Regions from separate parts of the Homo sapiens genome. Here region 1 is linked to region 2. The links come from fine-mapping of genetic effects on gene expression. A gene starts in region 2. The other region holds a variant in brackets. All regions are shown on one strand. Distances are from middle to middle.

What was found. PIP is the estimated chance that this variant, and not a neighbour inherited with it, causes the effect.
Region 1: its variant is fine-mapped to the expression of GHDC in whole blood (TOPMed, PIP 0.98).

The regions. Positions count from the first base shown.
Region 1 is chr17:42,167,461-42,182,488 of GRCh38, reverse strand. KCNH4 (potassium voltage-gated channel subfamily H member 4) reads left to right here and starts at 1,347. Exons shown (of 17, transcript NM_012285.3): 1 at 1,347-1,619; 2 at 3,463-3,696; 3 at 4,012-4,158; 4 at 4,262-4,389; 5 at 6,192-6,435; 6 at 6,753-6,910; 7 at 10,494-10,701; 8 at 12,188-12,382; 9 at 12,813-13,012. The coding sequence starts at 1,544. RefSeq lists silencers at 916-1,191, 1,198-1,437, 12,304-12,598 and enhancers at 2,387-2,954, 3,605-4,106. The variant A/G (reference allele first, on the strand shown) is at 8,931.
Region 2 is chr17:42,187,582-42,202,609 of GRCh38, reverse strand. It overlaps GHDC (GH3 domain containing), which reads left to right and starts at 8,116. Exons shown (of 10, transcript NM_032484.5): 1 at 8,116-8,217; 2 at 8,760-8,843; 3 at 9,016-9,293; 4 at 9,583-9,704; 5 at 9,868-10,369; 6 at 11,400-11,592; 7 at 11,707-11,778; 8 at 11,853-11,986; 9 at 12,340-12,425; 10 at 12,689-13,523. The coding sequence starts at 9,029. The coding sequence ends at 12,907. It overlaps STAT5B (signal transducer and activator of transcription 5B), which reads left to right. Exons shown (of 19, transcript NM_012448.4): 18 at 163-270; 19 at 746-3,433. The coding sequence ends at 872. RefSeq lists enhancers at 7,974-8,203, 9,098-9,628.

The sequences.
Region 1 (15,028 bases), 20 kb after region 2:
CACGCCTGTGATCCCAGCTACTAAGGAGGCTGAGGCGGGAGAATTGCTTGAACCCAGGAGGCAGAGGTTGCAGTGAGCTGAGGTCATGCCACTGCACTCCAGCCTGGGCAACAGAGCAAGACTCCGTCTCAAAAACAACAAGAACAAGAACAACAAGAACAACAACAACAACAAAAGTAGAGACACAGAAAAATGTGGCACTTCTTAGCAATCTAACATCCCAGATAATACCTAGCTCAGAGGGTGGGGAGAATTTAGCCTGCCCTCCTTGCCCATAGGGTTCCCACTTTCACTGCTTCAGCTGTTTTGTCGTGGGAAGCAGCCACCCTCAGCCACAGAACTCAGCTGCCTCAATTTTCTGCATAGGTAGTGAGAAAGTCCTGTGTCTAGTCTCACTTTGGTCCCTCTTGCTGCTGTACTGGTTCCATCTTGGAGAAGTTAGAGGTCAAAGTTCACATGTGCATCCTTGGAGATTTGCAAGCCATGACTCTGCCCACCTCGAAACTATCTTTTTCAGAGGTAGTTTCTCCCAAACTTGCCTCCAGCCTCTCTTCCACTTGAAGGGCAGCAGAGAGGAGGATTAAGACAGTAGGAAGAGGGAAAACAGGCAGGCAACTGCCCTTCAAGACACTTATTTTGTACCAAAGACATGCATTATGGTATTACATTCTCACGGTAACTGCATCAGGTAAGAATTATCAGCTCCATTTTACAGATGAGGAAAGTGGGCTTGGAGAGGATATCACACGATTGGTGTCTAGAGCTGGGACTCTACCTGGTGGACTCCAAAGCTCTTTTCATTCCACCATGCTGTGTCTCAGTAGGCAGAGTTCGCCAGGGTGTCTTGGGAAAACTGAGGCAGGAGGTAAGAATGGTGCTTTCTAGAGTTGGGGTTTCAAGCCTTCCCATTGTCCATTCTCTACCAGCAAACTAGCCTCTTAACCCTTGCTGTCTCACGCTGGAGCTACTGGCCTGTGGGTGCTGCGAAATATGTCAACTCCAGTAGGCGGCACTGTGAACCAGACACCAGCCCAGCGTGGACGCCGCGCGGGAAAACCCGCGAGGTGGAGCCACAAGGAGCAGCCAGGGAACCACGTGTGGAGGCGTGGCCAGCCTGGAAGAGGGCGGGTCTGTTATTCAAGCCCCGCCCATCATTTCAGGCCTCCCCTCCCGGTGGGCGTGCCCCGAATTCTCTCCCCGAGAGACACGCGTGGGCCGCTCCCCTCTGGGAGGAGGGCTGCCCAGAGGGGTGCGGGTGTCGCTAGCGGCCCCTCCCCGTGTGGGGCCACGTGGCGGGTGCGGGCCGAGCCCGAGGGGAAGAACCTGGCCCGTGGGGAGGTGGGGGGGACCGAAACGGCGCTGAGCCGAGCCGAGAGCTACGGGGTTCGGAGCAGAGGCAGCGGCAGCGGCAGCGGCAGTAAGAGGGAGGGGAGGAGGCAGGAGGGCGCATGGGGCGCCCCGGCCCCTCCGACAGCGCGCCCCCTCCGGCCCGGCCGCGCTGAAAGCTCCCCAGCGCCGCGCCTTGAACCCACGCCCCGGGGCCATGCCGGTCATGAAGGGGTTGCTGGCCCCGCAAAACACCTTCCTGGACACCATCGCCACCCGTTTTGACGGAACGCGTGAGTGGGACGGAGGTCGGGGCTTGAGGTTCGAGCTGGGGGGCAAGTATCCTCGGGGCCGTCTCGGATCTCCTGGACATGGTGAGACCCGAGGCGAGGGGAGAGAATGGAGGTGCGGGTCTAGGAACTCCCAAAGCCGCGGTGCAGGAACAGGGCGGGGAGTGCCCTGCGAGGGGAGGAGGGGAAAGGGCCGAGAGCACGGGGGCCAAGGTTAGGGGGTGTGACTCGAGGCAGAAGAGGCTCTTTGTGCGGCAGAGCGGAGGAGGGTCCTTCGGAGCCGCCCACTCTCGGGCAGAGCTGTGCTGGGGGCGTGTATGGGGGTATCCGAGACACAGAAGTGGGGCAAAGTGGCCGGGCATTCTGGGGTCTACTCACAGACTCCAGCTCCCACTACCTCCAGAAAAAAAGGAGAAAAGATCAGACTTCAGCAGGACCTAGTTTGGATTGAGGTCGCGCGCCCCCAAATCGTGGGGCGTCAGTGTCTAAGGTGGGTGAGGCAGGAGGAGGGGAGCGGTCTGTGCGACGGTGGGAACTCCCAGCTCGCCCAACGTAGCTTGGGTTTCAGGTTCAGCACCTTGGACAGCCACATCACTCCTCCCCCGCCTCTTCTCCCGCCATTCCCTCTTCCCACTCTGGAACCCAGAGATTCCCCGCCCTCACCTCCCCCAACCCCGCCATTCCCTCGGGAACCCTGGCCGGGATCTGGATGGTGGGGGAGCGGTACCCGAGGGCGGAAACTGAGCCGCCGGGCCCTACCCTCTTCCCCACCACCTTGTTTCCATAGCGCCCATCACCGGGGCAACAGGCCCTGGGATGGAAGAAGGAGGCTGTGCCCAGAGCCCAGTGCCTCCCAGGCACCTTCAGTGTCCCCATCAGCCTCCCTGCCCCCAGACAGTCATCCCTCCTAGAGCACCAGGACTGGTTGTGTCACAGGCCCCATCTCTTAGCTGAGTCTCTGTCCCTGGATGGCCCACAGGAGTCCCCCTGGCCTCCCACCCATTGGAGCTGGAGGGAGACAGCTCGGGTTCTGCTGCTGGGGGTTGCTGGAGCTATACGCTCAATGCCCTCTCCCATTAGACTTTGAGCAGTGGGGCAGATCCCCTGAAAGCAGCTACAAGAATGCTAAAAAGTGGACCTTCTCTGGAAGGCAGGGAAGGAAGACAGCACTCATCACTGTCTGCCCCCACACTAAGGAGATCTGTGAGTTTGGATAATCTCTGCCTTTTGGTTTCCTATCAATAAATGGGTGTGGTGTCATCAGAATCTCTGCCCTGCTTACTCTGTAATAGGAAGAAAGCCAAGTGAATGTGGGGAAAAAATTTCACCTTCTCAGAGTAGCACTTACCATGTGCTAGGACTTGTTCTCCCCAAGTTAACTCATGTAACTCTCACAACGACCATGTGAGGAAGGCCTATTATGCCCTACTTTGCAAATAAGGAAAGCTTAGGCACAGAAGAGGTCATCAACTTGCCCAAGGTCACACAGTTAGTAAGTGGCAGTGGAGGGTTGCAGGAGCCCAGGCTCTTACTCACCATGCTATACTGCCTTCTACAGTGACAGCTCACCAGTTGGAAGGCAGGGGGATGGATGGCATGACCTCCTGGGGTCCTTCTCCAACTCCCCGTTAGACCCTGCTTAAGTCCTGTCTCAAGTCCTTGTCTCTTTGCTCCAACTTCTCCAATTCTCAATTCAGAATATCCCAAAGTGGGGTCAGGAGCAACATGGAAACCTGGGAAGCTTCTGGCTCTGTGACTTCTAACCCCAACTTAGAGGAAGTGCTGCCCACCTGGAAGCTAGCTCGCCTCCCAGCCTTGACCTGACCTTGACCTCTTCTTCCCACAGACAGCAACTTCCTGCTGGCCAACGCACAGGGCACACGGGGCTTTCCCATCGTCTACTGCTCCGACGGCTTCTGCGAGCTCACAGGCTACGGTCGCACCGAGGTCATGCAGAAGACCTGCAGCTGCCGTTTCCTCTACGGCCCAGAGACCAGTGAGCCAGCCCTGCAGCGTCTGCACAAAGCCCTGGAGGGCCACCAGGAGCACCGGGCTGAAATCTGCTTCTACCGCAAGGATGGTGAGGGGGCTCACCCCACCCTGCAGCTCTGCCTAGACCCCTAGCCTTATCCAGAGGGCACTGGGCACAGTAGGAGTCTGAGTGCTTGTCCCCACACTGCCAAAAGCTGACTGTGACGGAGCGTATCCCTGACCTCTCTGGTCCTGGGTTCCCCCATTTGAAAGATGAAGGAATCGGCTGACAGAATCTCTGAGGTTCCTTTTGGTTCTTGCTTTGCCAAGCTCTTAACTATGTCTAGGAGGATGAGAGGGATGAGGAGAAAGGCATGCCATGGGGCTGCCCATGCTCCTCCCTTCCCTCTCTCCATGCCTACAGGCTCAGCCTTTTGGTGCCTCCTGGACATGATGCCCATCAAGAATGAGATGGGGGAGGTCGTGCTGTTCCTCTTTTCCTTCAAGGATATCACTCAGAGTGGAAGCCCAGGACTTGGCCCCCAAGGAGGCCGCGGGGACAGTAATCACGGTAACAGCAAGTCCGGACGGGCAGTGTGAATGGTCAGAAGCCTTCGCCTAACCAGCCGCAAGGGATGTGCCCCAACGTATCTCTGCACCTTTCTTCCCAACAGAAAACTCCCTTGGTAGAAGGGGAGCCACCTGGAAATTTCGGTCTGCCAGAAGACGGAGCCGTACTGTCCTACACCGACTGACCGGCCACTTTGGCCGCCGGGGCCAGGGAGGCATGAAGGCCAATAATGTGAGTCCCACCCCCAACCCAACATCTCCCAAGTCCTCCAGCCTTGATTCTGAGGCACCCCTGCCACTGTCTCCCCACTTCCCTGTCTGTCTGGTGTCCCTCCTTGGCTTGCTCCTCTGCCCACCCATTTCCCATATACTACTCTATATGGTATATGCTCCATCCTATATCCTCCCCCAACATCCTTCTATCCCTATCTCCCTCATTCCCTTAGGTGATTGACATTACTTTGCTCCGATGATGTCACATTGCTCTAGCAGCAATGACCTCACCTGCCCGGGGGTGATAGGGTTATACCATGGGTGGTGAAATTGCAAGCTGCTATAGTTCTAGGGAGAAAGCCCTCATTGCAGGCCTGGCATCTAGACCTGTGTACCACCTCCTAGGATCCTGACCAAGCCAGGGGATTGAGTCCCCAACCCTCTGTTAGGGATACAGGGAATGCGGTGGGCTATGCCAGCCTCTGCTCCCTGCTGGGATATACCCAGCCCCCACTGGGCCCCCAGAACCCAAGAGGAACTTAAGGGAGAAGTTAGGTACCCCTCAAGCTAGGGCATGTGCCGATTTGTCATAGTCTTCTTCTCAAGTAGGATGAGTGTTGGGCCAGGCACAGTGGCTCATGCCTGTAATCCCAGCACTTTGGGAGGCCAAGGCAGGAGGATTGCTTGAGGCCAGGAGTTCTAGACCAGCCTGGGCAACATAGTGAGACCCCTTTTCTAAAAAAAAAAAAAAAAATTAAAAATTATCTGGAGGCCAGGCGCAGTGGCTGATGCCTGTAATCCCAGCACTTTGGGAGGCTGAGGCAGGCGGATCACCTGAGGTCGGGAGTTCAAGACCAGCCTGACCAACATGGAGAAACCCCATCTCTACTAAAAATACAAAGTTAGATGGGTATGGTGGCACATGCCTGTAATCCCAGCTACTTGGAAGGCTGAAGCAGAAGAATCACTTGAACCCGGGAGGTGGAGGTTGCGGTGAGCCGAGATTGCACCATTGCACTCCAGCCTGGGCAACAAGAGTGAAACTCTCAAAAAAAAAAAATTATCTGGCTATGGTGGTGCATGCCTGTGGTCCCAGCTACTCTGGAGCCTGAGGCAGGAGGATAGCTTGAGCCCAGGAGTTTAAGGCTGCAGTGAGTTATGATGGTGCCACTGCACTCCAGCCTGGGCACAGAGTGAGACTGTCTCTAAACTTAAAAATGTAAAAATCAAGTTGGGTGAATGTCAAGCCTCATAAATACCCTTGACAAGACATGATTGGTTCAAACAGGGGCCTGGGGCCGGGCACAGTGGCTCACACCTGTAATCCTAGCACTTTGGGAGGCTGAGGTGGGTGGATCACCTGAGGTCAGGAGTTCAAGACCAGCCTGGCCAACATGGCGAAACCCCATCTCTACTAAAAATACAAAAATTAGTCAGGTGTGGTGGCATGTTCCCGTAGTCCCAGCTGTTTGGGAGGCTGTGGCAGGAGAATCACTTGAACCCAGGAGGTGGAGGTTGCAGTGAGCCAAGATCATGCCCTTGCACTCCAGCCTGGGTAAAGAGCAAGACCCTATCTCAAAAAAAAAAAAAAAAAAAAAAAAAAAAAAAAGGAGGAGGGCCTGGGAAATACTTGGCAGGAGAAGAAAATGTCAGGTGTCAGCCTCTGCGCCCCTCTCCTGGCCTTCTATCTCCTTTCATTCATGGTCAAAAGTGCCCTTGCAGTGCCCACCTGCTAACTTTCCCCATCCCCTGCCTTTCCCACCCCCCATCTTGGCTCCTCTTTCCCTCAAGTGTCCCCAACCGCCACCCCTCTCCCCTTAGAACGTGTTTGAGCCAAAGCCATCAGTGCCCGAGTACAAGGTGGCCTCCGTGGGGGGGTCTCGCTGCCTCCTCCTCCACTACAGCGTCTCCAAGGCCATCTGGGACGGCCTTATCCTCCTTGCCACCTTCTACGTTGCGGTCACCGTCCCCTACAATGTCTGTTTCTCGGGTGACGATGACACCCCCATCACTTCGCGACACACCCTTGTCAGCGACATCGCCGTGGAAATGCTCTTCATCCTAGGTCAGACCTTCTGCCTCACCCACCCTGGTGGGTCGGCTGGGGGGATCCACTTGGCCAAGCCTCACCCACTCCTGGGGCCCACATGACCCAGACATTCAGAGCCCCTTCCTTTCTGCATCTTTAAGTCCCAATGGCCCATGTGTCCTGCTCCCCGCAGCCTTCAGCCTTGTAACCTATCCTCCCTAAGGACCAGCCAGAAGCCCAATCTATCTCTCCATGCCTGCCTCCTCCTCCAGTCTCCAAAGCTTGTTCCCAGCTTTGTCGGTTTCTTGACCCCTTTGCCAAGGCCCCCCAGTAATAGCCTCTTGCACCCCCAGATATCATCCTGAACTTCCGCACCACCTATGTGTCCCAGTCCGGCCAGGTAATCTCTGCTCCTCGTTCCATTGGCCTCCACTACCTGGCCACCTGGTTCTTCATCGACCTTATTGCTGCTCTGCCCTTTGACCTGCTTTACATCTTCAACATCACCGTGGTGAGTGACCTCCATCCCGCCATCCAGTCCAACCTCCCAACTTCAGCACAGCATCTTCCAGGAAGGGACTGACCCCAAACCCAGATATGCCCCTTCCCATCAATCCATCTGCAGATATTTATCAGGCACCTGCTCTGGGCATAGCCCTGTGCTAGGTACTGGGAGGATCCCGAGGGTCTGTGATCCTGGGGAGCTCAGCTCACAATCTTTGAGGGAAGCTGAGACAAATGAAAAGCTAACTATGGCTACCAAGGCGGCATTGGTCTGATGCCAAATGAGTGGTACTTTTCACATTTTTATTTAACAAACAACTGATGAGCATTTAGCTGTCTGCAAAGCACTGTGTGGGGCATGGCCACTGTGGGGAAAGGGAACAAGGATTCAGCCTCTAAACAGCCAAACTGGTGAGGGGGCAGGAATGCCACAGAGCACATCAGGGACAGAAGAGGTGAATGGGGGTGGAAGATGGGGCCCGGGTATGCTACAGAGGGGCTGGGCTGACCTTGGAGTTCCAGGCTGGAACATGAGTGTGTGTAAAAATGATCTGAAGTCTGGCCAGCACCTGGGAAGCAAAAGCGCCCTTGTTGGGCAGAGGCTGGAGGGGTCTGGGAAGGTTTCCTGAGGGAGGCGGAGATGGTATAGCTAGACCTTAAAGGGTGAGTAGGATTTAGCTGGAAGGAGATGAGGACAGCAAGCATTTGGGGGAGCATAGTAAACCTAGACAAGAAGGTAGAGGCTGTGGGGTGAATTCAGAGGCAAAGAATGCCAGGACCTGAGTCCTCACAGATCCCTGGGGACACTCTGGAGGTGCCCTGAGTGGTCATCTGTGGCCCCAGCCAGCAGATAGTAGGTCTTCTCAAGTCCAGGGTGGGGCAGTGCTACCCCGTGTCCCCAGGCCCCCTTGGGTGTGGGGCGGGCAAGTGGGGAGCAGTTTCCTTGTGTGCTCTCTCCCTGCACTCAGCTATAGCAGGAAACCACCTACACGCAGCCGAATTTAACTAGCCGCCAACGGGCTGTGGGCCTCCTCTCCTGGCTGTGCACACGTGTGTGCGTGCTCCCACACACGTGCATGTGTGTACGTCTGCCTCGAGGCTCTGACCATTCTGAGCAGATCTCCCTACCCCTCCCCAGGGGTGCGCCCACCCCTCTATGCCCACCAGGCACCATCAGCTGGGGAGTGGGACACTACAGAGAGCCCCCTGCCCCTCCTCTCAGGTCCCTTTGGGAGCACGTTACAGTTCCCTATGTTCTTTCACACTCATCATCACATGGGAGCCCCACGGGAACCCTTCAGGGCAGAGGCTTATCCTTTTTCAGAGGTAGGTACAGAGGCTCAGAGAGGTTCAGTGACTTGCTGAAGGTCACATACCTAGCAGGGGCAGGCAGGATATTAGAACCAGGTCTCTCCACCCTGGGCAACAGGTGAAACCCCTTCTCTACTAAAACACAAAAAATTAGCCGGGTGTGCTGGCACGTACCTGTAGTCCCAGCTACTCGGGAGGATGAGGTACAAGAATTGCTTGAGTCCCAGAGGTGGAGGTTGCAGTGAGCCAAGATAGCTCCACTGCACTCCAGCTTGGCCGGGCGCAGTGGATCACCCTGTAATCCCAGCACTTTGGGAGGCCCAGGCGGGCGGATCACGAGGTCAGGAGATCAAGACCATCCTGGCTAACATGGTGAAATCCTGTCTCTACTAAAAATACAAAAAAAATTAGCCAGGCGTGGTGGCAGGTGCCTGTAGTCCCAGTTACTTGGGAGGCTGAGGCAGGAGAATGGTCTGAACCCGGGAGGCAGAGCTTTCAGTGAGCCGAGATTGCGCCACTGCACTCCAGCCTGGGCGACAGGGACTCTGTCTCAAAAAAAAAAAAAAAAAAAAAAAAAAAAAGAACCAGATCGCTAAACTTCCAGTCTAGTATTTTTTCCAACATACCACCCTGCTTCCCAGGTAACCAGGGCCCCTGAGTGGATGGTCTGGTGAGATGAGGAATACCACTGGGGGCCAGAGAGAGGTAGAGCAGAG[A/G]CAGAAGATGAGCAGGCACTGGCAGAGCTGCAGACTTGAAGGAGCCAGGCCTGGATATTCTAGTCCAAGGAGAATGACAGGAGTATCCCCAAGAGAGTGGCCCAAGGGCAGCTGACTGAGGGAAGCCCTGAAGAACTCAAGCTTGCAGTCAAGGGCTCTGGGAGCTGGGGGTAGGCATTAAACCCTGGCGAGGGTCCATATGGAGGAATCAGAGCCACCTCCTTTCCAGTTCCTTCACCTAAAATTAGAGAAAAATTGCACGAGGTGGTCCAGGAGCAGTGTAGGGCCAGGGCTGTGGGGAATGTTCCTGGAGGCCCAGGAAGGGGCAATGAGGGGCTTTCATACCAAGTTCCCCAGGCACTGCCCCAGAGCCTCCAGTCCTAGCTGCCAGGCTGCTCCCACCCAGAAGATAAGCCCTGCCCATCTCCAAGATTGAAGGGCTAATCAATATTGATAACCACAATGCAGATGGTACTTGGGGTAATATTAGTGAATATGGGACACTTACCAGGTACCATTATCTCCGTCAACCCCTAGCACAGCCCAGCCTCCCTCAGTCCCTGCTCTCCTGCCCCCTCAACTCTTCTGCTTGACTCTTCATCTGCAGCCGATCCACAAGAAGAAGTGTCCATAAACCTCCCCCAGCCCTCAAGTCCTTGCCTGTCCCCACTCCACTATGCTTCTCCATGTCTTAAAGGGGGGTCCCCATCACAATTGCTGCCGTCGCTACTGGGGCTCTGCAGAGACTGTTGCCTATCCCCTGACTCTGACTAGGGCCGGCTCCCCTACCATCTCCCAGTGCTTAGTGGCTGTAGAGCACAAGGTGGACTGTGGTGTCAGTCAGCCCAGATGCCCACCCTGAGTTCCAACTCTATCGTGTCCTTGGTCTGTGACCTTGAACAAGTCATTAGCCTCCCTGAACCTCAGTTCATTCATCTGCAAATTAGGAATGATGATAATTGAACTAAAGGTATAAGTGTGTGTGTGTGTGTGTGTGTGTGTGTGTGTGTGTGTGTGTGTGTTGTTAAATAAGGATTACCAATGCTTAGCACAGTGCCTGGCTAAGCACATAGAACGTACTTACTAAGGCCGGGTGCAGTGGCTCACGCTTGTAATCCCAGCACTTTGGGAGGCCGAGGCAGGTGGATCACGGGGTCAGGAGATCGAGACCATCCTGGCCAATGTAGTGAAACCCTGTCTCTACTACAAATACAAAAATTAGCTGGGGAGGGAGGCTGAGGCAGCCTTGAATCGCTTGAACCTGGGAGGCAGAGGTTGCAGTGAGCTGAGATCTCGCCACTGCACTCCAGCCTGGCTACAGAGCGAGACTCTACCTCAAAAAAAAAAAAAAAAGTAATTACAAAGTGTTAGCCACTGTTTGTTTTATTGTTATTATTCCCTTGCTGCTGCATTCCTTGGCCACTTTCTCAGGACAGCAAAGATGTCTTTCCTGTTGCAGCCTGCCCTGGCTCCAGGTTGTCTGGTGGGAAGGCCCTGGGAGGGGACTCTGAGGGCTCGGAGGAGGTGTGCCTGCTGACAGCCTCCCCCGCCACCTTCCTGCAGACCTCGCTGGTGCACCTACTGAAGACAGTGCGGCTGTTGCGGCTGCTGCGGCTGCTGCAGAAGCTGGAGCGGTACTCTCAGTGCAGTGCTGTGGTGCTCACGCTGCTCATGTCGGTCTTTGCGCTCCTTGCCCACTGGATGGCCTGCATCTGGTATGTCATCGGGCGCCGGGAGATGGAGGCCAATGACCCGCTGCTCTGGGACATTGGTGAGCCACCGACCCCAAACTTTCACAGACCACCTGTCCACCTGTCCCATCCCCAAGCTGATGCCTCCACCAGTACCCACACCCCTCATCCCACATTCCTCTATCCATCCAACAAACATGCGTTGAGCTCTTTCTGGATCAAGCATGGGAATATTGATTTGCAGACAAGGGCTCTGTTTTGGGGGCAGGTTGGGGGGAACTCACAGCCTAGTGGGGGAGCAAGACCAGTGATAGTGATCAAAGTACAACGCAGGAAACACTCTGAGGGTGGAGGGGTGTGTTTCAGGCAGAAGGAGCAGCACGTGAAAAGTCCCAGAAAGAGCTTAGCATCTCTGCCCCCATCAATCCCTTCTTCTCCAAGCTTCATGGCCATGAGCCAGGAGACAGCCCCAGGCCCTTGGAATCCCTCTGAAAGGCCTGTCAGATCCCGGGCATGGTCCCTGACACCTCCCTTTCCTTTACCCCACACCTAGCCCACCACATCAATACCACCTCTCAAATGTCCCGTGAATTTGACCTTTTCTCTCCATCCTCTCTGCCCCTTCCCAGTCCACTCCACCTCCCTTTCTCACCCAGGCCTGTGCAATAGCCTCCCTACTGATTTCCCAATCCCCTTCTCATCCCCCCCACAACCACCATCCTCACCACAGCCAAATGGGTGTTCCAGGATTCAACGTTGACCCACTACACTCCTTCTGGGATTCCTTCAGTGGCTTCCCACTGCCCTCCAAATGAAGTCCACACTCACTGCACACCCTGGGCGGCCCTGTGCCCCTTCTCTCCCCACCTGCCTTCCCGTTCTCCCGTGCTCCCTGCGCTGCAGCCACACCAGCCTCTCCCCTGGACCCAGGACATACTGCTTTCTCATGCTGGGCCTGGAACATGTTCTTTTCCTCTCTGGAATCCTCCTCTTTTGTCTTCCCTCTCCACCTAGATGGATTTTCCGTTCCCTGCCTCACTTGGAACAATGTTCCTTCGGTTCCATGTGTCTCAACCAAAATGTCCTGTCCTAAGGAGCATGCCTTCCAGGCACCATGTCCAGAACCCCCAACTGCCAATGGGTTGGCTTTCCCTAACCTGTTAGGATTCCTAACACACCCTATACAATACTTTCCTTCCAGGAGCTCACCTCCCACCTGTAATGATTTATGTCATGTCTCTTTCCCCTCCAGGCTATAGGTTCCACCAGGGCAGGGAGAGTGTTTGGCTGGGTCAATTCCCCAACACTTTGTATACAGCAGGTGCACAATAAACTATTAGAAAGTTTCAGGAGCCTTTGAACACTCAGCAATGTAGTTAGTTGGCGGCCTTGGAATGCAACTGTAACCAATGCACCATGGGGAGACACAGGCCCAGGCCACTCCCCACATTTCCTGTGCCAACCTGTGTATAAATACTTGCCGAAGGTCAAGCGTAGGTGGCTCAGGGAACCCTGGTTCTCCACCGCTGGCACAGCCAGGGCTCCCTGCATCCGTCCACCCTGCAGGCTGGTTGCATGAGTTGGGCAAGCGTCTGGAGGTGCCCTATGTCAATGGCTCGGTGGGCGGCCCATCACGGCGCAGCGCCTACATCGCGGCACTGTACTTCACTCTAAGCAGCCTCACCAGTGTGGGCTTTGGCAACGTGTGTGCCAACACCGACGCGGAGAAGATCTTCTCCATCTGCACGATGCTCATAGGCGGTGAGGCCAGACCTGCCACGCCTCAGTGGGGCCCTGCGAAGCCCAGCATGCACGGGGAAACTGAGGCCCAGAGAGGGCAAGACATCTGCCCGAGGTGTCTACCCAAGTCCAGACAGTCACGCATTCATTCACGGACGTTTCCTGAGTGCCCACTATGTGCTGGCCCTGGGGATGCCACAAACAGGCGTGGACTTTTGCAAAGGGGATGGGAAACCCAGGTTCATGACCTAATGGTGGGGAGGCCTGAGAGGAGCATGGGGTGTTACCCATCTCTGGACCACTCCCTATTCCCCACCCTTAGTCTAGTGCCTGGCACCTGGTAGGCACACAGGAGCCCGCTGGCTCTTGGTCCAGGACAGGGTGGGTTTGGGAGCTGGGGAGGTGGCCAGAGGGGTGGCCGCCCCTGACAGGCCCGCTGCTGCTGCTGCAGCCCTGATGCACGCTGTGGTGTTCGGGAACGTGACAGCCATCATCCAGCGCATGTACTCGCGCCGCTCGCTCTACCACAGCCGCATGAAGGACCTCAAGGACTTCATCCGTGTGCACCGCCTGCCGCGGCCGCTCAAGCAGCGCATGCTCGAATACTTCCAGACCACGTGGGCCGTCAACAGCGGCATCGACGCCAACGAGGTAGCCTGCAGGGTCTCCAATCTTGCCCTTGCCCTCCGCGTGGCCCTGCAGTGGGGTGGGGAAGGAGTCGCTGCCCCTGTAGCTTAAAATGGAGGCAGGCCGAACTCGGCTGCTCACACCTGTAATCCCAGCACTTTGGGAGGCTGAGGCGGGCAGGTCACTTGAGGTCAGGAGTTGAAGACCAGCCTGGGCGACATGGTGAAACCCTGTCTCTGCTAAAAATATGAAAATTAGCCAGCTGTGGTGGTGCACGCCTGTAATCCCAGCTACTAGGGAGACTGAGGCACGAGAATCACTTGAACCAGGGAGGCAGAGGCTGCAGTGAGCCAAGATCATGCCACTGCACTCCAGCCTGGGTGACAGAGCTAGACTCTGTCTCAAAAAAAATAAATAAATAAAATGGAGGCGCTGAGCGCAGTGGCTCACACCTGTAATCCCAGCACTTTGGGAGGCCGAGGTGGGCGGATCACAAGGTCAGGAGATCGAGACCATCCTGGCTAACACGGTGAAACCCCATCTCTACTAAAAATACAAAAAATTAGCCGGGCATGGCAGCGTGCACCTATAGTCCCAGCTACTCAGGAGGCTGATGCAGGAGAATGGCATGAACCCGGGAGGCGGAGCTTGCAGTGAGCCGAAATTGTGCCACTGCACTCCAGCCTGGGCGGCAGAGCGAGACTCTGTCTCAAAAATAAAAATAAAAATAAAAATAAAAAAATAAATAAATAAAATAAAAGGGAGGCAAACAGGGCCCGGGGGGTGAGGTATTGTTCACAAGGGCACACATTTGCCCAAAATACAAATTCTTGCTTCTTTTCTTTTTTTCTTTTTTCAAGAAGGAGTCTTGCTCTGTCGCCCACGCTGGAGTGCAGTGGTGTGCTCTCAGCTCACTGCAACCTCTGCCTCCCAGGTTCAAGGAATTCTTCTGCCTCAGCTTCCTGAGTATCTGGGATCACAGGCACCTGCCACCATGCTCGGCTGATTTTTGTATTCTTAGTAGAGACGGGGTTTCACCATGTTGGTCAGGCTTGTCTCGAACTCTTGACATCGTAATACACCTGCTTCAGCCTCCCAATTTGCTGGGATTACAGGCGTGCACCACCACAGCCGGCCAAATTCTTGTTTCTTTGCACTTGAATAAGGGAATGAAAGAGCTCAGGGCCCAGCTGATGCGACTCTCCCTTCTGCCAACATTTCCTGAGTGCCTGCTTTGGGCCAGCCTTGGTGCTGGGCACAGAGAGCTTAGAGATGATGACACTTAGCCCTGGCCCTCAGGGAGACCCAGAGTATTGAGGGAGGCAGAAAGATGAACAGAGAGTGCCGCGCTGAATGGGGCTGTAAAGGAGGGATGTCGGTGCCTTCAGGTCCTCATTGTGCCTGGGTGGGGAGGAGTCAAGGAAGGTGGCAATGCCAGGTAGAAATGGCCTTAGGGACACAGGCCAGAAGTGATGGCACAAAAGAGCAGAGTGAGCGCTTTAGGGAACTGAAAGCGGCTCAATAAGCCCGCAGGAATGGGCATGTGAGTGCTGCGGAGGGAGAAGGCAGGGCAGGAAGGCACGACATGGGCTGGGAGGCAGCAGGCCCAGCTCAGGGATGGCCTAGAATTTAGATTTTATCCTGCTTAATGTTTAGACTGGGGAGTGGTGTGGGGATCTTGGAGGGAATGGGTTGGTGAGGTATCTCTGAGGATGGGATCTGTGGGACGTGGTAATCTCCTGCTGGTTGCAAGAGAGGAGCTCAGAGTGACTCCCAGTTTTCTGGCTTAGGCCAAGGGTGGGGATGGAGGCATAACAGGGGGAAGATGGGCTTTGGGATGAAGGTGAGAGTCCCGGGTCAGACCAAGAGGAGGGTATAGTGCCTGGGGGAGGTCCAGAGAGAGGCTGCCCGGTAGGTAGATGGGAATCAGCTCTTGGCTGGGTGCGGTGGCTCATACCTGTAATCCCAGCACTTTGGGAGGCTGAGGCGGGCAGATCACCTGAGGCTGGGAGTTTGAGACCAGCCTGGCCAACATGGTGA
Region 2 (15,028 bases):
CCAGTACCTGAGGCCCCACTCCTGTAGCTGGAGCCCCAGGGCCGAGTGGGGCACTTTGTCCTTCTACACCCTGAGAAAGACAAAGATACCCCTTGGTCCCCTCCCCAAGTCAGCTGCCCTGGCCTCCCTGGCAGCTGAAGCTCTGTTCTCTTCCTTCTGCAGGTTTGTGAACGCATCTGCAGATGCCGGGGGCGGCAGCGCCACGTACATGGACCAGGCCCCCTCCCCAGCTGTGTGTCCCCAGGCTCACTATAACATGTACCCACAGAAGTAGGTGGCATTCTTGTGGGGGTCCACAGGGGAGGAACTGGGGGCTTGGCCCCAGGCTGGACCCCTGGAGGGCTGGGGTCAAAGGAATCCAGAGCTCCTCTAGGTCTGAGACCACACAGCCCTGGCCCGGGCTCTGGCCTTTGGGAGGGAGAGATTTGACCAGAAGTGATTGGTGGTTTAGAGTCGGGTTGGGCAAATGTCATCTGTTCCCCTCTCTCAATATGGAGATTTTTCTTGCTCTAAGGACTGAGTGGAGTTGTGATGTGTCTGGACAGCCGGTGTGAGAGGTAACAGGGGAGGGTATTTCAGTCTGAGTTGCTGTACAGCCAGCTGTTTGAATGGTTGTTCTTTTCCCATGAAGCCCCAGGCTGAGGGCATAGGCTGGCTCAGACTGCTCCCCTGGTGGCCTGTGGGGCTTGGGGTGGTCTCTGGCAGGCTTTCCCCTTCCCTTCATCCCTCTTCTTTCCCTCCCAAGCCCTGACTCAGTCCTTGACACCGATGGGGACTTCGATCTGGAGGACACAATGGACGTAGCGCGGCGTGTGGAGGAGCTCCTGGGCCGGCCAATGGACAGTCAGTGGATCCCGCACGCACAATCGTGACCCCGCGACCTCTCCATCTTCAGCTTCTTCATCTTCACCAGAGGAATCACTCTTGTGGATGTTTTAATTCCATGAATCGCTTCTCTTTTGAAACAATACTCATAATGTGAAGTGTTAATACTAGTTGTGACCTTAGTGTTTCTGTGCATGGTGGCACCAGCGAAGGGAGTGCGAGTATGTGTTTGTGTGTGTGTGTGTGTGTGTGTGTGTGTGCGTGTTTGCACGTTATGGTGTTTCTCCCTCTCACTGTCTGAGAGTTTAGTTGTAGCAGAGGGGCCACAGACAGAAGCTGTGGTGGTTTTTACTTTGTGCAAAAAGGCAGTGAGTTTCGTGAAGCCTGGAAGTTGGCCATGTGTCTTAAGAGTGGCTGGACTTTGACATGTGGCTGTTTGAATAAGAGAAGGACAAAGGGAGGAGAAAGCACATGTGCTCCAGTGAGTCTTCGTCACTCTGTCTGCCAAGCAATTGATATATAACCGTGATTGTCTCTGCTTTTCTTCTGAAATGTAGATAACTGCTTTTTGACAAAGAGAGCCTTCCCTCTCCCCCACCCCTGTGTTCTTGGGTAGGAATGGGAAAAGGGGCAACCTACAAAGATTGTTGGGGCAAGGGAAGTCACAAGCTTTCGGATGGGCGGTGGCTTTTCACAAAACATTTAGCTCATCTTATTCTCTCTTTGTCCTCTCTCCCCTCCTGCCCGCCCGCACCCTGGAATTGCCACTCAGTTCCTCTGGGTGTGCACATATGTTTGGAGAAATAGAGGAGAGAAAAGAGGGCCACGTAACTGAGAGCTTACAGTGCCAATGCCGTTTGTGTTCTGGCCAGAGTGGAGTGCGCAGCCCTGACTCCCAGGCGCTGAGATTGTTGCCTGGTTACCCAGGAAGCTGCTGTTCCGGCTGCCCAGCCTTTCTCTGAGCCAGCGGATGCACAGTCCGTGGCCTTCTTCAGGCTTATTGATGATGCTTTTTGCAAATGTTGAATCATGGTTCTGTTTCTAAGTTGGATCTTTTTTGTTTTCTCCTTGCCACCCTAATTTGACATCAAAATTCTCTCTTGTGCATTGGGCCCTGGGTCATTCAAACCCAGGTCACCTCATTCCCCTTCTCTGTTCACACCTAATGTCTTGAAGAGTAGGTAGCAGCAGTGTGGGCTGAACCTAGGCCAGCTTGCTTAGCGGGTCACCCTGCTGTGAAGTCCTGGCAGGTGTTGGTAATGTGTGGAAATGCAGTCAGCAAGTTTGCTGGGGAGTTTGATAAAAGTATAAAACAAAACAAAAAAAGCCTCGGTATAATTTTGTTCCACGACTTCTTCTGTAGCTTTACACCAGAAGGAAGGAATGGGCTACAGCAGGTAGTGGAGGAAGAGGGGGGTGAGCAGGTGTATTAAAATAGCTTACGGGTAAGGCCTAAAAGGTCACCCCTCGGCCCCCTCTCCAAAAGAAGGGCATGGGCACCCCCAGGAGAGGATGGCCCCAAAAACCTTATTTTTATACATGAGAGTAAATAAACATATTTTTTTTACAAAAATAACTTCTGAATTTATCAGTGTTTTGCCGTTAAAAATATTCCTCTATAGTAAATTATTTATTGGAAGATGACTTTTTTAAAGCTGCCGTTTGCCTTGGCTTGGTTTCATACACTGATTTATTTTTCTATGCCAGGCAGTAGAGTCTCTCTGCCTCTGAGGAGCAGGCTACCCGCATCCCACTCAGCCCCTCCCTACCCCTCAAGATTTGATGAAAATTCCAACCATGAGGATGGGTGCATCGGGGAAGGGTGAGAAGGAGAGCCTGCCTGCTCAGGGATCCAGGCTCGTAGAGTCACTCCCTGCCCGTCTCCCAGAGATGCTTCACCAGCACCTGCCTCTGAGACCTCGCTCTCTGTTCCAGCAACCCTGGTTGGGGGGTCAGACTTGATACACTTTCAGGTTGGGAGTGGACCCACCCCAGGGCCTGCTGAGGACAGAGCAGCCAGGCCGTCCTGGCTCACTTTGCAGTTGGCACTGGGTTGGGGAGGAAGAGAGCTGATGAGTGTGGCTTCCCTGAGCTGGGGTTTCCCTGCTTGTCCAGTTGTGAGCTGTCCTCGGTGTTACCGAGGCTGTGCCTAGAGAGTGGAGATTTTTGATGAAAGGTGTGCTCGCTCTCTGCGTTCTATCTTCTCTCTCCTCCTTGTTCCTGCAAACCACAAGATAAAGGTAGTGGTGTGTCTCGACCCCATCAGCCTCTCACCCACTCCCAGACACACACAAGTCCTCAAAAGTTTCAGCTCCGTGTGTGAGATGTGCAGGTTTTTTCTAGGGGGTAGGGGGAGACTAAAATCGAATATAACTTAAAATGAAAGTATACTTTTTATAATTTTTCTTTTTAAAACTTGGTGAAATTATTTCAGATACATATTTTAGTGTCAAGGCAGATTAGTTATTTAGCCACCAAAAAAAAGTATTGTGTACAATTTGGGGCCTCAAATTTGACTCTGCCTCAAAAAAAAGAAATATATCCTATGCAGAGTTACAGTCACAAAGTTGTGTATTTTATGTTACAATAAAGCCTTCCTCTGAAGGGATGGTATTGAGTCCTGTTTTTACTTTTTTCTGTCACATGCCAAGGGAGGGCAGCTTGAACACGGAAAAGTTTCAAGTCATCAGCGTGACCCTGAAAAAGGGAACTGGTTGGGTGGTTGGGAGTTGGCTGCCTCAGAGGGCACGTCATTAGCTCTGATGGCAGATGGGGCCTTTCATACCTTCCTGCTCATATGATGTTTTGAAAATAAGAATGATGGTCTCCTAGCCTCCTGACTCCAGAAAGCTTGTTAGCCAGGATGGTCTCGATCTCCTGACCTCATGATCTGCCCACCTCAGCCTCCCAAAGTGCTGGGATTACAGGCGTGAGCCACTACGCCCGGCTGAAAGCCTGTCCTTAAGATTCAGCACATTTAGAGTACCTGACCCTGAGTTCAGCGTTGTGTGTGGGATGAGAAATGGTGCCTTCCCTGCAGAGGCTCACAGTTGGAGAAAGGCAGCTACCACAACTGATTATGCTAGGATATCGCTTCCTGCTGCAATCAAGGCATCCCAAAGTCATTATGCAAAAGAACATGCAGGAAGGCCACTGAGCAACTCAAGCTTTTTTTTTATTTTATTTTTTTATTTTAATTGAGTAGCTGGGATTACAGGCGCCACCACTCCCGGCTAATTTTTGCATTTTTAGTAGGGACGGGGTTTCACCATGTTGGCCAGGCTGGTCTGGACCTCCTGACCTCAGGTGATCCACCTGCCTTGGCCTCCCAAAATGCTGGGATTACAGGCGTGAACCACCATGCCCAGCCTGGAGCTGGCTCTTAAGGAACAAATAGGGCCGGGCACGGTGGCTCATGCCTGTAATCCCAGCATTTTGGGACGCCAAGGCAGGTGGATCACCTGAGGTCGGGAGTTCGAGACCAGTCTGGCCAACATGATGAAACCCCGTCTCTACTAAAAATACACAAAAATTAGCTGGGCGTGGTGGCACGCGCCTGTAATCCCAGCTACTTGGGAGGCTGAGGCAGGAGAATCGCTTGAACCCGGCAGGCAGAGATTGCAGTGAGCCGAGATCATGCCATTGCATTCCAGCCTGGACAACAGAGCAAGACTCTGTCTCAAATTAAAAAAAAACAAAAAACCCAGCCATTCCACTTGTAGGTATCTACATAAGAACCATGAGAACATATATGTACAGAAACACTTGTGACAAATGTTCATAACAGCATTATGCATAATAGCCAAAGGGCAGAAACAACCCAAATGTCCATCAACTGATGAATAAACAAAATGTATTATGGTATATCTGTACAATGGAATATACGGCAATAAAAAGGAATGAAGTGCTGACACACAGGACATGATGTTGTCACGGATGAACCTTGACAATATCATGCTAGATGAAAGAAGCCAGGCCGGGCACGGTGGCTCATGACTGGGACTCCAGCACTTTGGGAGGCTGAGGCGAGGGATCACTTGAGTGCAGCAGTTCAAGACCAGCTTGGACAACACGGTGAAACCCCATCTCTACAAAAAAATACAAAAATTAGCTGGATGTGGTGGTGCACCCCTGTAGTCCCACCTACTCAGGAGGCTGAGGTGGGAGGATCACTTGAGCTGTGATCATGCTACTGCACTCCAGCCTGGGTGACAGAGCGAGGAAAAAGAAAAGAAGCCAAGTACAAAAGACCGCATATTATATGATGCCATTTATAGGAAATGTCTAGGATAGGCAAATCTATGGAGACAGAAAGTAAATTTGAGGTTGCCTAGAGGCTGGGAAGGAGTTTGGAGGTAATAGTGAAAGGATACAGGGTTTGGGGGTTTTTTTGTTTTGTTTTTTTTTTTGTTTGTTTTTCTTGAGACAGAGTCTCGCTCTGTCACCCAGACTGGAGTGCAGTGGCGCCATCTCGGCTCACTACAACCACTGCCTCCCAGTTTCAAGCGATTCTCCCACCTCAGCCTCCCAAGTAGCTGGGATTATAGGCGCCGGCCACCAGACCCTGCTAATTTTTGTATTTTTAGTAGAGACAGTGTTTTGCCATGTTGGCCAGGCTGGTCTTGAACTCCTGACTTCAGGTGATCCACCTGCCTTGGCCTCCCAAAGTGCTGGGATTATAGGTGTGAGCCACCACGCCCAGCCTGAGTTTGGGGTTTTTTATTTTATTTTATTTTATTTTATTTTATTTTATTTTATTTTATTTTATTTAACGAATTGGGCAGTCTCCTGAGGCACAGTAGGCTCAGAGAGACTCTGCAGGGTTTGTTTTTGAGGTAAGGAAAATGTTATTATCTGTGGTGTTGGTTGCACATATCTCTGGATATACTAGATCTTGAATTGTACACTAAATGGGTGATTTGTATGGTGTGTGAATTATATCTAATAAAGCTGTTACTGGGCCAGGTCTAGTGGCTTACACCTGTAATTCCAGCACTTTGGAAGGCCAAGGTAGGAGGATCGCTGAGACCGGGAGTTCCAGACCAGTCTGGGCAACATAGTAAGACCCCCTGTCTCTACAAAAAAAAAAAAAAAATGTTTTTAATTAGCTGGGTGTGGTGGCACATGCCTGTAGTCCTAGCCACTCAGAGGCTGGGGTAGGAGGATTGCTTGATCCCCGGAGTTCAAGGTTGCAATGAGCTGTGACCAGGCCACTGAACTCCAGCCTGGACAACAGAGCAAGACCCTGTCTTTAAATAAATAATAAAAGCAAATGCAAGATCTCAGCGAGAAAAAACGTGAAAGTGAGGTGAGTTAGCCAGAGTGAGAACAGACCTGTTGAAAGAAGCTCAGCTGTGAAGGGAAGAGAGGTGCTCAGCAAGTAGTAGCTCTCTTCTCAAAGGTATCCAGAGGCAAGTAAGGGGAGAAAGGGAGTGGTTTTAGTGTTTTGAGAGCCTAGGTCAAGAACACACCAGCCTGGGCAACATAGGGAGCTCTCTCGTCTCTACAAAAAATAAAATTAGTTGAGCGTAGTGGTGCGTACCTGTAGTTCCAGTCCCTTGGGAGGCTGAGACAGGAGGATCTCTTGAGCCCAGGAGGTTGAGGTTGCAGTGAGCTATGATCGCACCACTGCACTCCAGCCTGGGCAATAGATCAAGACCCTGTCTCAAAAACAAAAAACAAAAAAAGAGAAGTTTGTAATTTTCCTTGGGATAAAGGCAACAGGCTAACACAGATGGTCACCCAGTAACCAGGTAAAGTTAAGATAAACTATATGTGACTGGCTGGGTGCAGTGGCTCAGGCCTGTAATCCCAGCACTTTGGGAGGCCGAGGCAGGTGGATCACTTGAGGTCAGGAGTTTGAGACCAGCCTGGCCAACATGGTGACATGGTGAAACCCCGTCTCTACTAAAAATACAAAAAATTAGCTGGGTGTGGTGATGCGTGCCTGTAATCCCAGCTACTCGGGAGGCTGAGGCAGGAGAATTGCTTGAATCTGGGAGGCGGAGGTTGCAGTGAGCTAAGATCGTGCCATTGCACTCCAGCCTGGGCAACAAGAATAGAACTCTGCCAAAAAAACAAAAAAAAAGAAGTTTGTAATTTTCCTTGGGATAAAGCCAGCAAGCTAACACAGATGTTCACCTAATAACCATGTAAAGTTAAGATAAACTATGTGACTGGCTGGGTGTGGTGGCTCACACCTGTAATCCCAGCACTTTGGGAGGCCAAGGAGGGTAGATCACTTGAGGTCAAGAGTTTGAGACCAGCCTGGCCAACATGGTGAAACCCCATCTCTACTGAAAATACAAAAATTAGCTGGGCGTGGTGGCACACACCTGTAATCCCAGCTGCTTGGGAGGCTGGGGCAGCAGAATCGCTTGAACCTGGGAAGTGGAGGTTGCAGTGAGCTGAGATTGTGCCACTGCACTCCAGCCTGGGCAACAGAGCAAGACTGTGTCTCAAAAAAAAAAAAAAAAAAAAAAGATAAACTATATGTGACAAGTCCTCTTACTTGAGGACTCGTTATTGTTTATCTTGAAAACGTGTATGTAATGGGTTGTATGCGCTTGGCTATACAAAAAAGTAAGATTTCCTCCCTTCTTTGCAAGCTCTTAGCAGATCACCTGTCATGTACATCACATTGTGGTTGAATGCTTATTCAATAATAAAATTGTTTTCTTTCTCAACTACCTTGAGGGAGAGGATGGGGTTTTTTTTGTTGTTGTTTTTGTTTTGTTTGTTTTTGAGACGGAGTTTCGCTCATTGCCCAGGCTGGAGTACAATGGCGCAATCTCAGCTCACTGCAACCTCCGCCTCCCAAGTTCAAGTGATTCTTCTGCCTCAGCCTCCCAAGTAGCTGGGATTACAGGCATGTGCCACCACATCTGGCTAATTTTGTATTTTTAGTAGAGATGGGGTTTCACCATGTTGGTCAGGCTGGTGTCAAACTCCTGACCTCAGATGATCCACCCGCCTCAGCCTCCCAAAGTGTTGGGAATACAGGCGTGAGCCACCGCGCCCAGCTGAGTTGGGGTTTTAAGAGTTCTTAAGCTTGCCCCTCTCCCAGCTCAAGTGGCTTAATGGCGTTCTTTCCCACACACACCTTTCTGTTCCTTCACCTGCGCAAGTTTGAGGACCATGCTAGTCTGGTCCTAACTGCCCCAACTGCCAGCCTGGGCTAGCACCCGACATGAAGTCCTGTAGGCGACCTGCCCCTTTAAGAGCACCCCCCTCCTTCAGCTCCTCCCTCAGGCCTGGTGGCCGGATTTCCCAGTTGGGGCCCAGCCTTTTAAAGCCATCGCTCCTTCTTTCTGGCCGGATGTGTGCTGAGACCCAGAGTCACCCAGGGGTCTCCGTCACGTGCCAGGAGTAGGCAGAAGTGGGCTGTGACAGGTGCATGTGGGCATGGACCCCACAGCCTGGGGCTCAGGAGGGACAAGGAGCTGGGACAGGGTGGATCCCGAGAGAAAGCAAAGCCACTCGGGAGTGGGCAAGAGATATCGTTACGCAGCTGCTGTGTGCCCGACCGACCCTGTCCGAAACCCTTCCTGTACCTTCCCTTCCTCTTCCTTCTTTTCTCCCTTTTTTTTCTTTTCTTTTTTTTTTTGACAGGGTCTCACTCTGTTGCCCAAGCTGGGGTGCAGTGGCACGATCTTGGCTCACTGTAGCCTTGACATCCTGGGCTCAAGGGATCCTCCCATCTCAGCCTCCCAAGTAGCTGCGACTATGGGTGTGACACCACGCTGGGCTAGTTTTTCAATTTTTTGTAGAGATGGAGTCTCCCTATGTTGCTCAGGCCGGTTGCAAACTCCTGGGCTCAAGTGATTCTCCTGCCTCAGCCTCCCAAAGTGCTGGGATTACAGATGATAGCCACCTCACCCGGCCCACCCCTACCTTCTGAAAGAGGCATTCTTATTCTTATTCCCATTTTGCAGATCAGGAAACAGAGCTCAGTGCAGCCCACTAAATTGCTCAGGGCCCTACAGCTAACAAGCGGCAGAGGCAGGATCTGCACTCAGGTCAGTGGGACTCCAAAGCTTTGATAGTCTCTCCTTTGCATCACCTGCCCCACAGGGTCCTGCCTTCTTCCCAATTTCATTTTTCCTCGGTTTTCCTGTATGCAGTAGAGCGTGGGAGGAGAAATGGATAATTGCTGCATGCCCCCATATCTCGGTTCCTTCCTCTTCCCAGGAGCTGCTTGGAGATGCTGCTGTGGCCACTGCTGCTGCTGCTGCTGCTGCTGCCAACATTGGCCCTGCTCAGGCAGCAGCGGTCCCAGGATGCCAGGCTGTCCTGGCTTGCTGGCCTCCAGCACCGAGTGGCATGGGGGGCCCTGGTCTGGGCAGCCACCTGGCAGCGGCGGAGGCTGGAGCAGAGCACGCTCCATGTGCACCAGAGCCAGCAGCAGGCCCTGAGGTGGTGTCTACAGGGAGCCCAGCGCCCCCACTGTTCCCTCAGAAGGAGCACAGGTGTGTTTCCCAGGGTCTGGGGAGGTGACCCAAAGAGAAAGAAACCCCACAGGACCGTCAGATTCCAGAGCCTGATGGCCCCCTTACCTCCTCCACTGCCAACGGAGTGGCCTGACCCAGAGACCCAGGACTGGCTTTCTTGTCCAAGATGAATTTCCCATGCTGGGTCCTTACATCCTCTCTACCCCAGGCCTATTCTCGGTTCCTCCCTCAAGGGTCTCACCAGTCTTGCCTGAAACTCTTGGGAAACTGGCTTCCTGAGGCGTTTCTGTTGTCATTGGGGCTATAGACATAAGCACCTTCCGGAATCATCTCCCTCTGACCAAGGCCAGCCAGACCCAGCAGGAAGACAGTGGAGAGCAGCCACTGCCCCCGACCTCAAACCAGGACCTTGGGGAGGCCTCTCTGCAGGTAATCTAGGATGGCCAGAGCCCAGTCCTGGCCACAGCCCAGTCCCACCAGAGACCTCTGACTTGCAGCCAAACCCTCCAGTCATGGTGGGCAAAGAACCCCCAAATGGGGGCTCTGGGTCTGGCTCTGACACCAGACCAACATTCTCTCTTTCCTCCTCCAGGCCACCTTGCTGGGTCTGGCAGCCCTAAACAAGGCCTACCCAGAAGTGCTGGCTCAGGGACGCACTGCCCGTGTGACGCTTACATCCCCTTGGCCCCGACCCCTGCCTTGGCCTGGGAATACCCTGGGCCAGGTGGGCACCCCTGGAACCAAGGACCCTAGGGCCCTGCTGCTGGACGCACTGAGGTCCCCAGGGCTGAGGGCACTGGAGGCTGGGACGGCTGTCGAACTTCTGGATGTTTTCTTGGGCCTGGAGACTGATGGTGAAGAGCTAGCTGGGGCGATAGCTGCCGGGAACCCTGGAGCGCCTCTCCGTGAACGGGCAGCTGAGCTCCGGGAGGCCCTAGAGCAGGGGCCACGGGGACTGGCCCTTCGGCTCTGGCCAAAGCTGCAGGTGGTGGTGACTCTGGATGCAGGAGGCCAGGCCGAGGCTGTGGCTGCCCTCGGGGCCTTGTGGTGCCAAGGACTAGCCTTCTTCTCTCCTGCTTATGCTGCCTCGGGAGGTCAGTGGGACTCAAGGGCAGTGAGGTGGGGGCAACGGTCAGTGGTCACATGACAAGCAGCCATGCATTGGGCCCTACATAATCATCTCATTTAATCCTCCCCAACAAGCTGCATGCTAGGGCCAGCAGCCTCCTTTTACAAGTGAAGAAATTCAGGCTCTCTAGGTTAAGAGTCTTGTAGCTGGGTGCAGTGGCTCACGCCTGTAATCCCAGCACTTTGGGAGGCCAAGGTGGATGGATCGTTGAGGTCAGGAGTTCCAGACCAGCCTGGCCAACATGGCGAAACCCCATCTCTACTAAAAATACAAAAACTAGCGGAGTATGGTGGTGCACGCCTATAATCCCAGCTACCTGGGAGGCTGAGGCGGGAGGATTGCTTAAACCTTGGAGGCAGAAATTATAGTGAGCTGAGATCGCGCCATTGCACTCCAGCCTGGGTGACAGAGCAAGACCCTGTCTCAAAAAAAAAAAAAAAAAAAAAAGGCCGGGGCAGTGGCTCACGGGTGTAATCCCAGCACTTTGGGAGAGGCTGAGGTGGGTGGATCACCTGAAGTTAGGAGTTTAAGACCAGCCTGGCCAATGTGGTGAAACCCTGTCTCTACTAAAAATACAAAAATTAGCCAGGTGTGGTGGCAGGCGCCTGTAATCTCAGCTACTCAGGAGGCTCAGGCAGGAGAATCACTTGAACCCAGGAATCACTGAATCACTGAGCCGAGATCGCACCACTGCACTCCAGCCTAGGTGACAGAGCGAGACTCTGTCTCAAAAAAAAAAAGAGTCTTGCACAAATTCATGTGGCACCAGGATTCACTCCCAAGTCTGCCCCCTCCAGGACCACAGCACTCTGCCTCTTTCCAGTGAGGGCCTAAGAGGCAGCCCGCTGAGGCTGGGGGAGCCAGGAAGGATGTGGTGGAAGGGCAGCAGGAGGATCAGGTGCTCAGAGGATCAGGCCTGGGATCCAGGAGGGGCTATTGCCTGGCAGAAAGCGATGGCACCAGCAGACGCTGAGGAGGCTGCTTTGCTTTCACAGGGGTGCTGGGCCTAAACCTACAGCCAGAGCAGCCCCATGGGCTCTACCTTCTGCCCCCTGGGGCCCCCTTTATCGAGCTGCTCCCAGTCAAGGAAGGCACCCAGGAGGAAGCTGCCTCCACCCTCCTTTTGGCCGAGGCCCAGCAGGGCAAGGAGTATGAGCTGGTGCTGACGGACCGCGCCAGCCTCACCAGGTGATCAGCTGCACAGCCCCTGCTACCTGGGGCCCTATGGGACCGTGCTGGGGGCCTGGGGCATGAGCTCAGAAGACCTTGGGCCCGACCTCACTCCCACTTGCACCCCATCAGGTGCCGCCTGGGTGATGTGGTGCGAGTGGTTGGTGCCTACAATCAGTGTCCAGTCGTCAGGTTCATCTGCAGGTAGGTGACCCCGGGGAGCTGAAGGGCCATCCTTGTGTCCTGGGCTCCACTGCCTCTCCCTTCCTCCTCTTCAGGCTGGACCAGACCCTGAGTGTGCGAGGGGAAGATATTGGTGAAGACCTGTTCTCTGAGGCCCTGGGCCGGGCAGTGGGGCAGTGGGCGGGGGCCAAGCTGCTGGACCATGGCTGTGTGGAGAGCAGCATTCTGGGTGAGCCTCCCCACCGGCTCCTGCCTACCATCCTTGAGCTACCCTTCAACTCCTACCTCCCCTGCCAGGGGACTGCTAGGAAAGAGATAAGCCTCCTTTACTACTCCTACAAAAGTCCTTCTCTGCATCTAACTCTCATCCATCCTGCTGCAGTCTCTACCCATTTTCTTTCCTGATCTGTCTCCTATTTAGGATCAAGCTCTAGGTTCCTCTCCATTTACCCCACTCCCCACCAAGAAACTCTTTTTTCCCTATGAATCTCAGAGTGGGGAAGAACAGATAGGGCAGAGGACACTAGACTTGGCAGCTGCCCATTCACCGGAAGTATGTGTGCACATGGGGTCTATTCACAGATTCCTCTGCGGGCTCTGCTCCCCACTACGAGGTGTTTGTGGCGCTGAGGGGGCTGAGGAATCTGTCAGAGGAAAATCGAGACAAGGTAAAGGAGACGAGGACAGGGTCTGACTGTAGACCCCTTCACTCTGCACACTCCCAGGGTGCCATGGAGATCAGGGCTGATGGGAAGGAGAGGGGTGGCGGAGGAGAAGCTCCCTGGGGCTCTGGGAGGGGAGGGCTAAGTCCCACAGACACACACCTGTCCACACAAAACTTCTAAACACATGTAGCCTGGGCACAGCCACACACGCCTCGTGTGCACACTCACAGTCACACACCAGCTCACTCAGGCTGTTCTGTTCCCAGCTGGACCACTGCCTTCAGGAAGCCTCTCCCCGCTACAAGTCCCTGCGGTTCTGGGGCAGCGTGGGCCCTGCCAGAGTCCACCTGGTGGGGCAGGGAGCCTTCCGAGCACTCCGGGCAGCCCTCGCTGCCTGCCCCTCCTCCCCCTTCCCCCCTGCGATGCCCCGGGTCCTTCGGCACAGGCACCTGGCCCAGTGTCTGCAGGAGAGGGTGGTGTCCTGAGTCAAGTCCTGCCCCACCGCCCAGCTCCCCCCAGAGGCCACCTCGCCCCTCCCTCTGGGACCTCTCCGGATGGGGAGTCCTTGGCCAGGGTCTCTGACTCTGTGTCACCTGACATTTGCCCATGAGAGCCGCTGGGCCTTAGAGAGGCCTTGGCCCAGCTGACCGGTTCTGAAGTATGGGCCTCCGGGGTTAGCAGATGCCAGCAGTGCCTGCCCGTGTCCCCATGTCCCGGCATGAAGGACACTGCTAGAGAGTTACCATGCACACCGATGGTTTCCTGTATCACAGCCCAAAGAGGTTCTCTGGTGGCCACAGCTGTGTGCTCAGTCAGTGCACTGGGCAAGCTAGAAGTGTTGGGGGGTTAATGTCCCCAGGAGCAGCAACCCTGAGTCAATAAGGAGCAGGACCTCAGCTTCATTGTCCTTGAGCAGGACAATTCTGAAGTGTATTCTACATAAACTCTCAGAGGATGCCCAGCAGGATGGAGTCCCAGTTGCCCGCAGCAGTAACCCACTCATTCATGTACTTCCTGCGGGGGCTCTCCCTTCCCTCTCTTCCCCACTCCCCCGCCTTGGGCTTCCTGGGATGGCTCCCAAATAAACCTCTTGCACCCAGATTCTTGCCTCAGGGTCTGCTTTGGGGAAACGGGAGTGGACCCCGGCCCAGCCATTCCCCCACTGAGCTCCAGGACTTTCCCCCAACATTCTGCTCTGGGCCTGGCAAGGCTGCATGCGCACACAGGAGCCTTGGAGGACTCGTGGCACATCCTAGGCCAGCACCCACAAACCACTTCTGCGGTGGGGAAGGGAGAGCTATTACTTCACATCATAAGGCATCGCCGCAGGAAGCAACTCCGGAGACCATCTGGGTTCACTGTTCCATACTAATGAGGAAACGCAGCCTCCACAAGGTTGTAGAGGCTAAAATAAAAGAAAGAAAGAAACTGGGCTAGATTTTGGCTTCCTTCCCTCCCACTGCCTGGACTGGAGTTTTAAGGTTTTCCATCTTGGAGGCTGATGGGAGGGGCAGACCTCAGCTCCTCCTCAGTAGAGGCAGCACTGGATCCAGATGCCTCTGAATAGCTTCTCCATTCCATGTCCCACACCCAGGTCCTGGCTGCATACCCACCCGGCCCCCACCTCCGCCTGTCACTCCATCCTGTTAAAATCTTCCTGTGAAGCTGGGCACAGTGGCATGGGCCTATAGTCCCAGCTACTCAAGAGGCTGCGGTGGAAGGATGGTTCATGCCCAGGAGTTCAAGACCAGCCTGGGCAACACAGCGAGACCATCTCGGGAAAAAAAAACAAAAAAAAAAACCTCCCATGGTGGCCCCCATCGCCCACAGGATTAAGACCAATCAATTTGGCCTATTAGACCCTTTGACCTTGGCCCTCACCTACATGTGCAGCTACCTCTCTCCCCTTGCTTGAAAGAAGGCCTGGACTAAGGACCACGCCTCACCTCCCATCTAAGGGTTGTTAAGCACTGTCAACTCCAGGAGTTTGCTCAAGTTGTCCCTTCTATGTAATGCCCTCTATCCCGCTGCCCCTGATGTAAACTAGCTTTCATGCAAGGCCTTTGAGGACCCCCTACCAGGCCCACCCCAGGCAGAGTGACTGGCTCAGCTTTGCTCATGTGGGCAGTAGTCCTCTCCTTCACTGAACTATCATTATGCCTGAACTGCCTCCCACCTGGAATATGAGTTCCTTGGAAACTGGGCTAGATCCTGTGCACAATTGCCCCCATGCCCAGTGCCTGGTGTGGCATGCAGCAGGAGCTCAATAAAGAGGTTGTAGGCCAGGTGCCATGGCTCATGCCTGTAATCCCAGCACTTTAGGAGGTCGAGGCAGTCAGATCACCTGAGGTCAGGAGTTCAAGACCAGCCTGGCCAACATGGTGAAACTGTGTTTCTACTAAAAATACAAAAAATTAGCTGGGCATGGTGGTGTGCACCTGTAAACCCAGCTACTTGGGAGGCTGAGGCAGGAGAATTGCTTGAACCCAGGAGGCAGAGGTTGCAATGAGCCAATATCGTGCCTTTGCACTCTAGCTTTGGCAACAAGAGTGAAACTCTATCTCCAAAAAAAAAAAAAAAAAAAAAAAAAAAAAAAAAAAAAAAAG